4 linked regions of the Homo sapiens genome follow. The protein of the gene in region 1 purifies or fractionates together with the protein of each later gene. This does not show direct contact. Each region holds a gene or a part of one and is shown on either strand. Other genes may lie near its edges.

The links.
Region 2: the proteins of CPLX2 (region 1) and SRP54 purify together in Homo sapiens (affinity purification with mass spectrometry; one large-scale study listed by BioGRID and IntAct). This does not show direct contact.
Region 3: the proteins of CPLX2 (region 1) and INF2 purify together in Homo sapiens (affinity purification with mass spectrometry; one large-scale study listed by BioGRID and IntAct). This does not show direct contact.
Region 4: the proteins of CPLX2 (region 1) and PHF6 purify together in Homo sapiens (affinity purification with mass spectrometry; one large-scale study listed by BioGRID and IntAct). This does not show direct contact.

Annotation. Positions count from the first base shown.
Region 1 is NC_000005.10:175,870,226-175,874,377, forward strand, and holds the start of CPLX2 (complexin-2), read left to right. Parts: upstream 1-1,352; 5' UTR 1,353-1,480; exon of another isoform or gene 1,481-1,974; intron 1,975-2,541; exon of another isoform or gene 2,542-2,795; intron 2,796-4,152. UniProt on the Homo sapiens protein: Negatively regulates the formation of synaptic vesicle clustering at active zone to the presynaptic membrane in postmitotic neurons.
Region 2 is NC_000014.9:34,989,432-34,993,312, forward strand, and holds part of SRP54 (signal recognition particle subunit SRP54), read left to right. Parts: intron 1-3,812; exon of another isoform or gene 3,813-3,881. UniProt on the Homo sapiens protein: Component of the signal recognition particle (SRP) complex, a ribonucleoprotein complex that mediates the cotranslational targeting of secretory and membrane proteins to the endoplasmic reticulum (ER).
Region 3 is NC_000014.9:104,713,558-104,717,438, reverse strand, and holds part of INF2 (inverted formin-2), read right to left. Parts: coding exon 3,833-3,881; intron 3,237-3,832; coding exon 2,583-3,236; intron 2,156-2,582; coding exon 2,100-2,155; 3' UTR 2,099-2,099; intron 1-2,098.
Region 4 is NC_000023.11:134,390,252-134,394,132, forward strand, and holds part of PHF6 (PHD finger protein 6), read left to right. Parts: intron 1-3,249; coding exon 3,250-3,383; intron 3,384-3,657; coding exon 3,658-3,701; intron 3,702-3,881.

The DNA.
Region 1 (4,152 bases):
AGCCTGTAAGGGGAGAACAGACATAGACTTCAGAAGGTGATTCTCCAGGTGACGAGGATGGGTTCACCAATGGCCTCTGACTGGTGGGGGGGTCTCCTGCTTTAAGGCCTCTGCTGTGATCGTGTGTGAAGGGATAAGTTCTCCCTCACTGGAACAAAATCACATTTCTGCAGCTCTTGTTGCCCCTTCCTTGGAAGGAAGCCATCCCCTTAGAAGGAGAAGCCATCTCCACTCTGACATACCTTGATGGATGTGAAACTCCTGCAGATCTTTCACAGGCCTTGTGCAAGGCCCCTCCTCTCCGAAGCCATTTTCCTACACATCGGGCTGGAGTAATTGGGAGCCGAAAGATGGCAGGCAGAATAAAAAGGCTCATTAGGTGAGAGTAATAAAACAAAACAAAACAAAACAAAAATGAGTGCAAGGGGAAGAGGAAAGGCTGGGGGTGGGAGCAGATGTTGTCCTGCCTCTTGGAAGTCCTTTTACTTTCTTGGGCATAGGAGGAAAAGAAATGGCCTTCTAGAATAAATTTTGCCAGAGGAGTCCTTATTCTTCACAGGATATCAGATCTCAAAGGGATTGGCGAGTGGCTTGCCTAAGGTCCACTGCAGTTTTGCATCAGTCTTCTCTTTCTGGGTGCGCAGTGGAGGTTCCTGACCCACTGCGAGGGTCTTGCCCACACGCTCCATCAGTGTTTCCTGAGTGCTCCTGTGGCTGGACACTGTGCTGGGGGGCTGCAAAGATGACCTGGCCAAGGTCCAGTCCTGGAGCTGCTCACAGGCAAGAGGCAAACCAACAGGTGGAACGGGGGTCGCTGAGGCAAGGGCTTGTCTGGGAGTGGCAGGAGCCGCAAGAAGTGCAACCACTCTGCCTGGAGAAACCAAGGAGGGCTTTCCCAAGGAGGTGAACTTTGAGCTTTGCTTTAAAGAACCCTTCCTCCACCCCTTGCCCCCACCACTCCTCAGGAGCAGCAAGCTTGTGGGCCTGGAGCTGTGGCCAGGATGTCTGGTTGCAGGGAGGCGGCAGGGGCGTCTGCGAGGGGGAGGAGAACAGTGTAAGGTGGAGGAGAGAGGGGAGGGGAGCGAGAAAAGAGGGGGAGGAATGGAGGGAGAAGGAGACGGGAGGGAGGGAGAGAGGGAGAGAAGGAGGGGACGAGGGGGGAGGGAGGGAGAGAAAGAGAGAGAGGAGAGAGAGAGAGAGAGAGAGACAGAGAGAGAGAGAGAGAGAGAGAGAGAGAGAGAGAGAGAGAGAGAGAGAGAGATTTGAATTTCCCATCTGGAAGGGGAGCGGTAGAACGTCAGGGCCCGGCTGAGGGGCGTGATTGGAGGGCGCCTTCGGCAGCCGCCCGCGGCAGAAGCCGCGGCTCCAGCTCGCCTGGCGGAATTGCACGCGGCGGCGGGAGCTGGAATAGCAGAAGGAACCACCTCGTGGAGTCGGGCCGGAGCCCTGCAGTGGCTCAGACGGTTGCAGGGACCGCCAGGTCGGTGCTGGCCGAGGGCCGGGAGGGCGGAGCTGGGCTGTGGGCAACAGGGTCCCGGCTCTCGCCTCGAGGCCTTGGGGCAGCTCGGGAAGCTGGGGAGCACGGCTTTCGGGGGGACAGCTCCCCAAGGCTGCCTGGGCACCGGATGGGGACTGAGAGGCGGTAAAGGGGACACTCCCGGGTGCGCTCTCCGTGGTGCTGAAAGGACAGCTCCTTGCGAGGGGCCGCGAGCAGGCAGCTAGCTGCGAACTAAGAGGAAGCGTGGGCCCTAGCCGGAGACTCCGGGCAGAGCCCGAACGGCCGGGGTCCCGGAGCCAGGACCGCCCCGGCTGCGGCGGAGACTCAAGTCTGAACCCAGAGAACAACTTTGAGCTCGCGGGAGTGGGGGACGTCGATCTAAGCTACTTCTGGCTGTGCTTAACCCGAAGCCCGCCGGAGCACGCTTCGCCCCGGAGGAGGGAGTCGCCCCCAGGGGTACAGTGCGCACTCCCGGAGTGAGTCAGAGGGCGGCGGCAGGGGGGCGGACAGACCGCAGGTGGAGGGGAGGAGAACGTAGACATTGACAGGGGATGGGGGACCAAGGGGACTATTTGTCCCTTTCCGGGAGGAGCCGCCGCTTGGACAGCGCACGCCCGCCGCCTGGAGTCTTCGGGAACGACCCCTTCTGTGCTCTCGTTCTCGTCGGCCTCAATCTGCCCCCTTCCCCAGCAAAGTTTGAAACCGGGCCGGGTCTTGGGGTTGGAGCTATGTGTGTTGGGGGAAGGGGCGCTCTCCGTGGCCCACCGGGAGATCCAGGACAGAGCTGCTGGGGGTGTGGGTCTCCGCGGGGGTCCGGGAGAGGGGCGCCGGGGTTCCTGTCCTCTCTTCTGGCCGGGAAACGGGAACCCCCGGCCACTTCCGCTTTTCAGCCGGAGTCGGCTCCCTACCTCCTCCCATCCTCCGCTGCCCCTCCCCTCCCCCATGCGTCTCCCATCCCGGGCCACGGGGTGGGGACGGGGCGGGGGGAGGGGGTGGAGTGACATCCCCTGTCTCTGCCACTGCCTTTGGCGTAGTCCCCTGCCAGAAGCAAATGAGTGTTGAATTGAGTTGCGGTGAATATAGCCCAGACTTGAATCATAAAAACAGAAAAACGGCCATAAGGACAACCACTGCAGGTTACCCGAGTCAGCCTGTCAGATGGCGGGGCCCAGTCCCGAAAACCTCTAGGGGCTCAGATGGTCGAGCCTGAGTCGGTGCTTGGGCTGGGACGGGCTCGGAGGGAGTCGGAGAGGGGAAGGAAGCTGAAGGCGCGCCCTGGGTCCCCGGCGCACTGAAGGTACGGAAACCTGGTGCTACGACGGCATCCCTCGCCGCCCCCGGCCTCCCCTCCCCCAGCGCAGCATCCCCCACCCACCCCCACTCCCACCCACCCCCACCCTCACCCCCCTTCCCGCGCAGGGATAGACCAAGGCTTCCCGCAGAATCGCTAAGGAGCGCCTCCTGGCGGCCTGGCCCAAATCCTCAACTGCCGGCAACCTGCTGGACCTCAGCACTCCCGCAGGCATATGGCAAAACATACACACACACACACCCTGCACACACGCACGCACTCACACGATGTCTAAGTCCAGAGTTGCACACACGGGGTCATACTTTCAACGCACACACCCTCATGCACTCGTTGACACGTTAAATTCAACCCGGCACACACGTCCTCAGGATCTACCATGTACCAGGACATGTAGCCAATTCTGGGGACAGGAGAAATGAAACAAGATACTGGTCCTGTCCTGAGAGGAGCTCAGAGTAACCAGGAAGGGCAAGACAAAGAAAGACAAACAGACAAAGAGAGCATGTACTGGAGGCAGGCAATACTGCCCCCAGAAAGTGCCACAGGTCTCCAAAGGGGAAGATGCCCTCACATCTTGCCAAGGAGATCCGTGAAATTGCATGGAGGGAGTGCTGTTTGAGAGAGATCTTCAGAAATCAATGCTGCTGATGATGATAATGATGACTGCGATGATGTTAGATAATATGTACCTACTTTGTGCCAACACTGGGCTGAGCACTTTATTTGCATCACCTCATTCAATGCTCACTACAAGCCTTGGGAATAGGTGTTGTTGTCTCCATTTCATAGATGAGAAAACATTGAGTCATTTGCTCAAGGTTACTTAGTAAGTGATGGAGCCAGGATTTGAACTGGCAGAGATGAGGGTAAGAGGTTCCAAGGCTGTGGGAATAGCATGCACAAATGCCCAGGCATTCTCAGAAAGATTATCTGTTGGGAAATAATACGTGCTAAGCAGAGCCCTGTGCAAGAGGTGGCACACGAGCAGCAAGGAAGACGGGTGCTAGACTGTGCAGGCCTTGAAGGTCAGCACAAGGACTCGTATCAGTTTAACAAGGCCATGGGGAGCCATTGCAGGGTGTGTATGCATGAGAAAATCTGCCCTTTAGGAAGATTAATTGGATGGCCACGTGGAGGCTGGATGAGAGCTGAGGGAGAGACAGTTAGAGGTTATGGATAAATCCAGAATCTCTAGGTCCTGAACCAAGGCATTAGCAGCAGTCACAGAGTGGAGGGTGGGGATGTAGGCAGCATTGCAAAGCTACAGCGTCTGGACTTCTCCCTGGAATTCTCCCTCGGCACCCCCATCCCAATCTTAACTCACCAATTCCTTGCATGATCT
Region 2 (3,881 bases), on another chromosome or scaffold:
GCACTCCAGCCTGGGCAACAAGAGCAAAACTCTGTCTCAAAAAAAAAAAGAACTTTTTTGTAGGGATTATGTTGTAATAGGATTTGACATAGCTAATCATTAGACTCTGTTTATATAATCTCAGATCAGGCAAATCTGGCAGGAATATTTATAATTGTTTATGTAGAGAAAGGTGGGTTTTTGGACACTGCAGCTTCTGTTGAATAATAATCTGGCAGTTGTAATTGCCACTAAATTTTAAAGATTCCAGGAGTGGTTCCTGAATGATGGGACAGACACTTCTGTAAGATTGTTCAGAAAATTTCCAGCTTACTTACACTCCATATAATACAGAGAGAGATAGTTGGTATCATTAAAAAAAGAAAGGAAGTTAATAGTTAATATGCTAGGTTTTTGAAGACAGCTTTATATGTATTGTCTCATTTAATCCTCACAACAGCCCTTCAGGGTAACTACCTTGGTAATGGTATCTTCATTTTGCAAGTGAGGAAAGTGAGGCTCAGAGAGATTAAGTAACTTGCCCAAAGTAACACAGCCAGTATGTAACAGAGCTAGGATTTGAATCTAAGTCTGTCAGACTCCAAAATCTATGCTCTTTCCAGTACTTCACACTGCAGCAAGTAAGTGTGATACTTGGCCCTGTGATTGCCTTACTTAGGGCACCCAAAACTTCAGCCTGTTTCTATTGCTTACTATCCAAATCCTAGTCAGACCCCAGTTAGAAGACCCTGTGACTCGAGCCAGGATCAGTCCTTGTATGTACTGGTCTGATTGCAGTGATAGTTATCATTTCTTTCTGAACGTTGCAATTACTCCTCCACAAAGAGGAATATACATCTTTAAATATGATTAAAATGTGATTTCTTCTATTATAGCATAGCAGCAAAATTTGTCCTTGCAGTTTCCAGCAGGTGTATTCAACCCTATAATTTAAAGCTTCATTCATACTCTAGCCAAAGGACTATGGGAAGTCATTTTGCTTTTTTTTGGCAGGGAACGGCTGTTCTATTCCCTATCCTGCTTATATCATAAAATTGTTGTAAGAGTGAAATGAGATAATAGATGTTCAACTGTAAGAAAGTACTGTGTGGTAATCTCTTACCTTTCTAAAAGCCCCATCTAAGTAGAGATTCTTCCTTTGTGAAATTCTAGCATATACAGATTTATTTCTATAAATCGTTTTAGTTAGGCAAGAGAATCTTGAGAGTGTACTTGAATTGTAGATTACTCCAACCTGAGATTTAGGCTTAGCTATTAACATACAAAAGGTATTTTTCACTTTAGTGTACATATTAGAACAAGGTGAGGTTAATTTTTAAGTATCTTGTTGGAAATGCATGGCAGGGAAATTCTGAAGAAGAATTATAAGTAATGACAAATAAATATATTTAATGTACAGTACAAATTACCCAAGTTATTGTTTTTCTTTTGATTCATCATATTATCTTCATTGATTTATTTTAGTGGCTTTTAAAGATATTTGCAGTGCCTTTCATGACTTTAGTTCTCTGGTCTCGCTTTTTCCCTAAGGCCTTAAATACATCATTTCATTCATTCATAATGTTCATTTTTATTAAGGATTTACTGTATAAGGCTGAGGATAGATAAAGCAGTGAGCTCACAGGAGAAAGCAAAAGAGGCAAAAATCCCTGCCCTTGTGCAGGTTAAATTTCTTTTCTTTTTTTTTTTTTTTTTTTTGTTGTTGTTGTTGTTGTTGAGATGGAGTTTTGCTCTTTCACCCAGGCTGGAGTGCAGTGGCACGATCTGGGCTCACTGTAACCTCCACCTCCTGGGTTCAAGCGATTCTCATGCCTCAGCCTTCTGAGTACCTGGGATTACAGGCATCTGCCACCGCGCCTGGCTAATTTTTGTATTTTCAGTAGAGATGGGGTTTCACCATGTTGGCCAGGCTGGTCTCGAACTCCTGACCTCAGGCAATCCACTCACCTCGGCCTCCCAAAGTGCTGGGATTACAGGCATGAGCCACCACACCTGGCCACAGCTTACATTTCAATAGTGAGATTATAGGTGACAAATAATATAAATAAGCCATATGTCAGTTGATAATAGAACAATAGGAAAAAATAAAGGGAAGAGGGTTGCAGTTTTAAATAAGTGATTAGGGAAGACCTCATTGAGAAATGGCATCTGGACAAATCTGAAGGAAATGAGGGAGGGAGTTATGTTGTCAAGCAGAGGAAGAGCATGCTGGCTAGTACCGAGACACTGAGGTGGAAATGTGTAGCAGCAATAGCAAGGAGGTCAGTATGATTAAAATCAGTCATGCGTGTGTGTTGGGGGTGGGGGGTGGAGGGGGCCTTACAGTCCATTCTGAGGACTTTACATCTGTGTGCAATGGAAGTCATTGAGATTTTAAGCAAAATTCTAACACGGAGTTTTCAGGAACACATCATCCTTGGACATTGTAGAGGAAACACTGTAAGTTAAAGGTATTATTAGATGTTCTTACTCCTCTACTGAAATGCAGGATTTTATTTTGTTTTTGTGTTTTGTGTTTTAAGACGGAGTTTTGCTCTTGTCATCCAGGCTGGAGTGCAGTGGCACCATCTCGGCTCACTGCAACCTCCGCCTCCTGGTTCAAGCAATTCTCCTGCCTCAGTCTCCAGAGTAGCTGGGATTACAGGCATCTGCCACCAAGCCTGGCTAATTTTTGTGTTTTTAGTAGAGATGGGGTTTCGCCATGTTGACCAGGCTGGCCTTGAACTCCTGACTTCAGGTGATCCACCCGCCTTGGCCTCCCAAAGTGCTGGGATTACAGGCGTGAGCCACTGGGCCCGGACAGATTTTGTTATTTTATATATTAAAACTATATGTATTCATGTATTATATAATAAAATATATTTTTTAAATTTAAGGCAAAAATGTTTTAAAATACACACTGCCAGTAACTACTTGCAGAAGGAAAAGTATATTGGAAAACCTCACAGAAGTTTTTAAAATTTTTAAATTTAAAACAACCAGTTAACATGGAAAGTTAGATTTATATTTAAGAATTTACTAGGCAGCCATAAAAAGAATGAAATCATGTCCTTTGCAGCAACATGGATGGAGCAGGAGGCCATTATCCTAAGAGAACTAATTCAGAAACAGAAAATCAAGTATCTCATGTTCTCACTTATAAGTGAGAGCTAAACATAGGTACCCATGGACATAAAGACGAAAGTAGTAGACACAGACCATTCCAAAATGGAAGAGTTTGGGAGAAGACTGAGGATTGAAAAAGTACCTCTTGGGTTCAAGGTTCAATATTTGGGTCATGTGTGTATAAGTCCAGTCCCCACCATTACACAGTATACCAGTGTAACAAACATACACATGTACCCTCTGAATCTAAAATAAATTAATTAAAAAAATTAAAGACACTTCCTAAAGTTTGCCCCCCCAAAAAGTTAACTAGTATGGCTTATTTATTTATTTATTTATTTATTTATTTGGAGATGGAGTCTCACTCCATCTCATCACAGTGATGTGATCTCGGCTCATTGCAACCTCCACCTCCTGGGTTCAAGTGATTCTCCTGCCTCACACTCCTGAGTAGCTGGGACTACCGGAGTGCACCACCATACCCGGCCAAGTTTTGTATATTTTGTAGAGATGGGGTTTCACCATGTTGGCTAGACTGGTCTTGAACTCCCAACCTCAAGCAATCTGCCTGCCTTGGCCTCCCAGAGTGCTGGGATTATAGGCGTAAACCACCATGCCTGGCTTAGTATAGCTTTTTAAAATGAAAGATGATCTGTTTATGACATGACCTCTAAAAAAGTTAATTGTGGTGTCATAAATAGGATTCTATCACTCCCAGTACCACCATGGTGAAGGATATAAACTGAAACATCTGAATCTTATTTCTTAAATGAAGA
Region 3 (3,881 bases), on another chromosome or scaffold:
TGCACTGGGACCGAGTATTAGAAGCATGTGGACGTGAAGCGCCCCACAGCGGACCCTGCCCGGGGGGGACTGGGAGGACGGCAGCGCACCCTGCCCGGGGGGGCGGACTAGGAGGACGGCAGCGCGCCCTGCCCGGGGGGGGGACTGGGAGGACGGCAGCGCACCCTGCCCGGTGGGGGCGGACTGGGAGGACGGCAGCGCACCCTGCCCGGGGGGGACTGAGGAAGACGGCTGTGCTCTCAGGTGTCTGTGGGCGAGTTTAGGGCTCCAGTGCCATGATGTTTATAAGAAACTCTCAGATGCCTCAGTTGGAGGGGGGCAATGTAGCAAAATGGTCACAATTTTGGTATTTTTGGCAAATGGTTGTAATTTCGGGGAGAAGGTGTTGTTCATTCTGATCTATGCAGTTTCCTGTGGTGTTGAAGATTTTCTAAATAAAAAGGTGGGGGCTGGGCACGGTGGCTCACGCCTGTAATCCCAGCACTTTGGGAGGCCGAGGCGGGTGGATCACCTGAGGTCAGGAGTTCGAGACCAGCCTGACCAACATGGTGAAACCCTGTCTCTGCTAAAAATACAAAAAATTAGCCGCGCGTGGTGGCGTGTGCCTGTGGTCCCAGCTACTCGGGAGGCTGAGGCAGGAGAATCACTTGAACCTGGAAGGTGGAGGTTGCTGTGAGCTCAGATCGCACCACTGCACTCCAGCCTGGGCAACAGAGTGAGACTCCGTCTTGAAAAAAAATAAAAAATAAAAAGTTGGGGAGAGAAGAGGACTTCTTCCTCTTGCCCTCAGCCACGTGCGTGGCAGGAGCTGGGGCGGGTGGAGGCTAAGCACGTGTAGCAGGTTCAGGAGGGAACCAGGTGGAGCGTGGAGCTGGCACTGGACACGTCCATCTTTCACTGGACCATTGTCAGATGTGGCCGCCCGCCCCAGACCTGCATGCTCCACTGTTCCTCACACTCAGGGCCAGCAAGTCCAAGTTCCAGCCTCTAAGGGAGATGCCAGCACCTTTCTAAAAAGTACACGTGGGTGCTTCACACCAGAGAGCCACACTCGGAAGATGACCCTGGAAGCAAAAGCTGGAACCCAGGGTGAAGGCCGTGCCCCAACAGCGAGGACAAGCTGTCCGGAGAAGCTTCTCCGGGGTCACGACTGCTCTTGCCTCTGATGGGCACCAGCAGACCTCAGGTGTGCACCTTGAGCCTAAGCCCCAGGCCCAGCGGTCAGCATATTTGTGATGCACCGACACCGGGCTGGCTCTGAGCAAGGCTGGAGGTGCTGGAAGACGCCACGACCTGGGCTCACAGAGCTCATGATCGGCCGGGCTGGACCTTCTGGTTCTCTGCTCTAGCCCCTCCTCCACCCAGTGCAGGCTGGTCCTGTCTAGCTGGATGCATTGGCCTCTCCAGCCCTGTGGACGGACCTGGCTGATTGACCTTTGGCTGGTCGCCCCCCAGAAGACTCGGTGTGCGGGGGGTAATCTGCTTCTCCATAGACCCACCCATGGCCTCGGGGTGGGAGGACACTGTCCAACAGGAGGGGGGTTGCAGTGTACTTGTCCCTGGCAGCATCTGCCCTTGCGACTGTCCCGGTCTCCTCACAGACTTCCTGGGGACATGCCCCAGAAGGCCCCACGCCATTGACACACTTAGAGTGAAGATAGCCCTCCACCAACAGACAGAGCAGGAAAGCCACAGGGTTACTGGAACTGCAGTTAGCGCCAGGACACCAGACAGGAGCAACCTCAGCCTGTCCTGCCAGCCAGGAGGTCCCGCCCACGCCCCAGGGCCCGGATCCTGCTTGCTAAGGGAGTCCGGCTGGCCCTGCCACCTGCCCTCTCGAGGCCCGCATGCCCGGGGCCAGCACTGAGGTTGCGTCCTGCCTGCAGGAGGCACCAGTTGAGCAGGTAACCTGCGGAGAGGGAGGGGATGGGGCGGGAAGCCCACCACCAGGGCTGCGGGAGCGGCAAGGCCACACTGACGCACCACGCGGGCTGGAGAGAAGCCAGGTTAGTGTCCCGGAGGGGTGTGGGCAGCAAGCTCCAGCCCCACTGCCCTGCAGCTGCTGTTAGCCCCCACGGAGCGCCGGCTGCGTACATACCTTACTGGATCACACACAGTTTCTTTGTTTTATTATCATCAGAATCAGGGGGAACCTCTGCTTCCAAATAAAAGAAACGCACTCAACGGCTTATCACACAGAAGCAACCCTGACTCGGAGTGGGTGGGGCTGGGGGGCCCGGGACAGCCATGCCAACACCCTCTGAGGGCTGCCCGGTTCTCTGGCCACTAAGCCACATGGCAGCCACTTGCCTGGGACCTGGTGCCCGGTGTCCGCCCCCTACTCCCTAACGGAGGTGGCGTGAAGGTCGGAATTAGTAGGTTGGAGGAATAGTTGCACGGGCCGCGGCAGCCCACATAGCCGCCCTGCGGTGGACGCACTGCCGCCTCCTCTCCCGTGCCGCACCCAAGTCACCTCTCCTGGGTGCCGCTGGAACTTGCAGTGCCCAATGGGGAAGGGGAGGGACCGGCTGGGTGCCAGCGCCCTGGCGTGGGACGGTGCCCGGGGCCCCTCCCTGAGTTACCTTCCTGGCTCCTGGAGGGACGCTTCTTCCTTCGCTTCCCGGTCCCCTTTGAGGCCCGGCCCCGGGCCCTGGGGAGTGTGCCCGACCCCGAGGAGTCGGTCACCGCATCCTCGGAGAAGGACTTGTCCAGGGATGTGTCCAGTGCGGACTCTGGGGCCGTGTCCTCCTCGTCCTCGTCCTCATCCCCACCTGGGCCTGCTGCAGGGGGTCTGGCACCACGGCTGTGGACAGCGTCCTCCAGCCCCTCACTTGTGCTGTCGGCCTCGGCCTGGAGGACGCCCAGCAAGGACGTGGGATCCTTGGCATCTTGCCTTGAACTTCCGGCTGCAGGGGGCTGGTTGCTGGAGAACTTGAGGGGCTTCAGGGCCTGAGCATCTCCCAGAGTCACCGGCCAGGCCCCCTCCAAGGGCTGGGGGCACTGGGGATCCTCAGTGGTTAGGACATCGCTGGCATCCACATACCAGGAAGAACGCCTCTCCAGGGGCCGTGGACCACCCTCCTCCAACTGCTCCAGGGTGGGCTGAGGGCCGGGGGTCACGGCGTCTACAAGGTCCCAGCCCCGGGACTCGCTGGCTGTTGTAGCATCAAGGCCGGGCTCAGAGGCGGGACAGCGCGTGCTGCCCACGGGATCTCCTGCAGGGTTACTGGTGGCCACTGGATGGAGGGACACACCAGTGAAGGGCAGGCACCCTGCCCCCGAGCCAGCCCAGGTGCAGCCTCCTCCATTCCGCTGTCTACCTGAACGCCCTGCAAAACCTCCTCCCCAGAAAGCCTCCTCTGATGTCTCAGAGCAGGACCCGGCCTCAGCGTCCTTGGTCTGTCTACACTGTGGCAGGGTGGGGGACACTGGGCCATGCCATTCCCAGCACCCTGAGGCAGCCACCCCAGGAATGGGGTCCTCCCACCAGGGCCTTGCCGCCTGCCTTTCCTGCCACCTCTAGCACCCTCTGAGCCCAAGGGCATCGGTCAGTGGGCCTGGCCTCATCTCTCTGGAGCCCAGCGGGCTGGACTGCTGCTTCAGCACTGAGGGCAGGGCCTGCGGTTACAGTGGAGGAGCTGGAGTGAGTGGAGGGAGGGATGAGGGCTGAGCGGCCACCACCTGTCCCCTCGGCTGTCCCCAGTCTTAGGGGCCTCCAGGGTGGCCCAGGGAGAGGAGAGGGCTTTCCAGTGAAGTCAGGAGGACTTCCTGGAGGCACAGGGTAGGGACAGTGGCAAGGGGACCATGAGGAGGCAGTGGGAGAGGGTCTTACCAGGCTCTGTGGCTCTTGGGGGATCCATGGAGGCTGCCTTGCTGCCCCC
Region 4 (3,881 bases), on another chromosome or scaffold:
TGCTTGTATGTGAATGCTGCATAAAATAGGTCCTGGGAATTCTAATTTAGCAAAATTCCAACTCCTAACCTTGTAAAGAAGTTTCCACTCCGAAAATATTTTTTATTGGTATGTCTTCCTCTTTCTTGTCTTTCTTGAGTGAAACTGACTATAAAAATAAAGTAAGCTTTAAAAAAATTATCTGTCCTGAGTTGCTGTAGTTAACTGGTTATTTGCAAAATGCATGTATTTCACCATAGCAGCTTAAAACCAGTTACTTTGGGCAGATTTAAATTTATAACCAGCCAAAAACTATTTTGGTATATTTTGGGTTTTTGGTTCCCATCTTATTCTCACCAGACTGAGAGACGGGTATTGAAAGCATTTACTAGAGTTTTCCTAATTTGTTTTTTAAATAATATTTTTGCATATAAAAGTACTTTTGCCCATTGTAGAAAAATCAAAATACAGGGCATTATGAAGAAAACCAGCCACCCAGAGATAGCCACTTAGCATTTTGCTGTTTTTACTTGCACCTGTTTTAAAGAATCTATGTTATAAACATAGTTGGGTTCATAATTCACATAGTTTTGTATCCTGCCTCATTTTTTTTAACTTAACATTACACATAGATCTTCCTGAGCCATTCCAATTTCTTTGAAAAGAGTGGCTGTAGAACATTCTCTCATATGTGTATACTATAATTTATTTAAACATTTTTCTTTTTCTTTTTTTCTTTTTTTTTTCTTTTTTTTTTTTTTGTGATGGAGTTTCACTCTTTTTGCCCAGGCTGGAGTGCAATGGTACAATCTCAGCTCACCGCAACCTTTACCTCCCAGGTTCAAGTGATTCTCCTGCCTCAGCCTCCCGAGTAGCTGGGATTACAGGCATGTGCCACCACACCTGGCTAGTTTTGTATTTTTAGTTGAGATGGTGTTTCTCCATGTTGGTCAGGCTGGTCTTGAACTCCTGACCTCAGGTGATGCGCCCGTCTCAGCCTCCCAAAGTGCTGGGATTACAGGCGTGAGCTGCTGTACCCGGACCTAAATATTTTTCAATTGTTGATAGGTGGTTTTACATTTTAGACTGTTCTAAATAATTCTACAATGAATGTGCTTGTGCATTAATTGCTTGAGTGTGATTATTTTTTAGACTAGGTTTATAGAGTAAAATTACTGGCTTAGAGAATACAAATTTTTTAAAAACCTTGTTGAATAAGGCAAATTGCATTCTAGAGAGTATGTACCAATTTCCAGCTGTATACAACAGTGCCCATCTTAACTGTATCTTGTCAATGTTGAGCTCAATATAGTATTTTAAATGGCACCTCTCTTTTCAGTTTTGCTCGCTAATTGAATTTAATATATTTTTTTCAAAATGTACCCATCTAAACCTGTTTTGGATGTAAGTTTCAAGATAAACTACTTTCCCTAAAGTTCTTAGTGAAGTGGGATAATGTTTGATGCGTTAAAAAAATAGATTGCAAAATAGTATGTGTAGAATTACGTTTCACTAAGCATTGTAACACTGTGAGGCATCTCTGCTTGGTGAGTATGAGTGATTTAAAATTTTTCTTTGTGCTTTTTTGTTTTCCAGAATTTCTTTAATATAATAGAACTTTGTAATTAAGCTACAGTTCAAATGCTGTACCTCCTTAAGAATTTATAAGCCATCCAAAAGCTTTGCCTTCTTGATAATTTGGCATAGTATTTCTTTTTACAGTAATACTTTGAAGTTTCTGTATTTATTTAAGGAAGAAAGGGGTATTTCTTGTATCAATAATGGGCACTGGCCCTCATGTTTTCTGGGAAACAGCTGTAGTGAGACTGTTTCTGTTTCTGACATATGAATATTTTTTAAATGATAGCCTGAATGAGAGTTTTAGTGTTTGACTTGCTTAGAGAAATGTAAGAAATTTTATTGGAATTTATATTAGCCTCTTGGTACACCAATATTGCTTAGAGGCCGAGTAATCCAAAAGTTAGGAATGCTAAGTGTTCTTTATGTTCAAATTAATAAAAAGAGGGATGAGAACACTTTAGAACAAGGTGTCCAGCAACCAAGAAGCAAATGAACAGTTTTTTAGATTTAGCTTGTTGTGAATCTATTTTGGCATGTCATGTACAGTTAAATGGCCTCATTATAAAAGTTCACTTGGTACAGTACATTATGATATGTTAATCAAAACCACTGAAAGTCATTGTTATGTAACTTTTTAAAGATAACTTTTTTCCTAAATGTAGAGCATGAGCTAGTTAATCAATATGAATTATCCATTAAATTCAAAAGGTAAGGTATAATAAAATACATTGAAAGAATCTGTTCTTTTATCTGTTTGCCTGAATTCATAGTGCAAGAGGTAAGTGACATAGATTAAATTGAAATACTGTGCATATTTTCATAATATAATCAACTTGACATCACAAAATAGTCTCAGAGCTCAAGGTATTAAAAAAACTACCTAATTCTTTCACCTTGTCTCCTTCCCTCGCTTTAAATGGATTTTACTAGGTTCTCAAATAGTAAGTTATGTGAGATATTTTTCCCACAGAGTCTCATTAATTAAGTGGATTTTTTTTTTTTTTTTTAGACGGAGTCTCGCTCTGTTGCCCAGGCTGGAGTGCAGTGGCACGATCTTGGCTCACTGCAGCCCCCACCTCCTGGGTTCAAGCAGTTATGCTTCAGCCTCCCAAGTAGCTGGGATTAGAGGCATGCGCCACCACACCCCAGCTAATTTTTTTGTATTTTTAGTAGAGATGGGGTTTCACCATATTGGCCAGGCTGGTCTCAAACTCCTGACCTTGTGATCTGCCTGCCTCTGCCTCCCAAAGTGCTGGGATTACAGGCATGAGCCACCGCACTTAGCAATTAAGTGGAAATTTTAAGGAAAACTTTTTTTTTCTGGTATGAGACATTTTCTCCAGTTACTTGTACCTAGGAAGATCTGGATTACATAAAAAGTCTCTTTTATAATGTTATATACAGCTCACATTCCTGAATTACAGTATTTCAAATTTTCTCTTGACCATAATGAAACAATAGACATTAATAACATTCTGTTAATTTTGTCAGTGTTTAACATGGGAAAAAATACCCCAGAAGAATTTTATTCCGGTTATTCTAAGGAGAGAAAACAAGAAAAGTAGCATTAATTACAAAACTTTTCAATAACCAATTTGTTTTCCTTGACAGAAATTGATATGCCTCTAATCTGATATACAGCCTTAGAAAGTCACATACTAATAATATTATTTTGTCGTTTTGCTGTAGATGTGTTCTTTGTGCCATTGTCCTGGAGCAACAATTGGTTGTGATGTGAAAACATGTCACAGGACATACCACTACCACTGTGCATTGCATGATAAAGCTCAAATACGAGAGAAACCTTCACAAGGAATTTACATGTAATTATTTAACTTCTCTTTAAGTTTTTTTTTTAACAATAATACTTTCTTTGGGCTTTTGTAAAAATTTTTCCCATTTCAAAGCATTTCATCATCATCATAAAGGGTGTTTTTGATAAGAAATTTAATACTTAGAGAAATAGTACAGGAAGTTTAATAATATATTTTGAATCCAGCTAGTGAATTGGGTGAAGTGTACTGCTCGTTTTCTTAATTTGAAAAGTGAGTTTAATTTAGTTTGCTTACTAATTTTTGATTTCTTCATTTTTTATAGGGTCTATTGCCGAAAACACAAGAAAACTGCACATAACTCCGAAGGTACATCATTTAGCCACGTTTCAGCCACTTTTCAGTTTCAAGAAGAAATTTGAGTACAGATTAGTGAATTATACTATATTAATTTTAACCATAAGACATATCTCAACATTCAGTACATTTAGAAGAATTGAGAAAAGTGTTAGGATAAACTAATGTGCATAGTGAAAAAGATCTGAACTT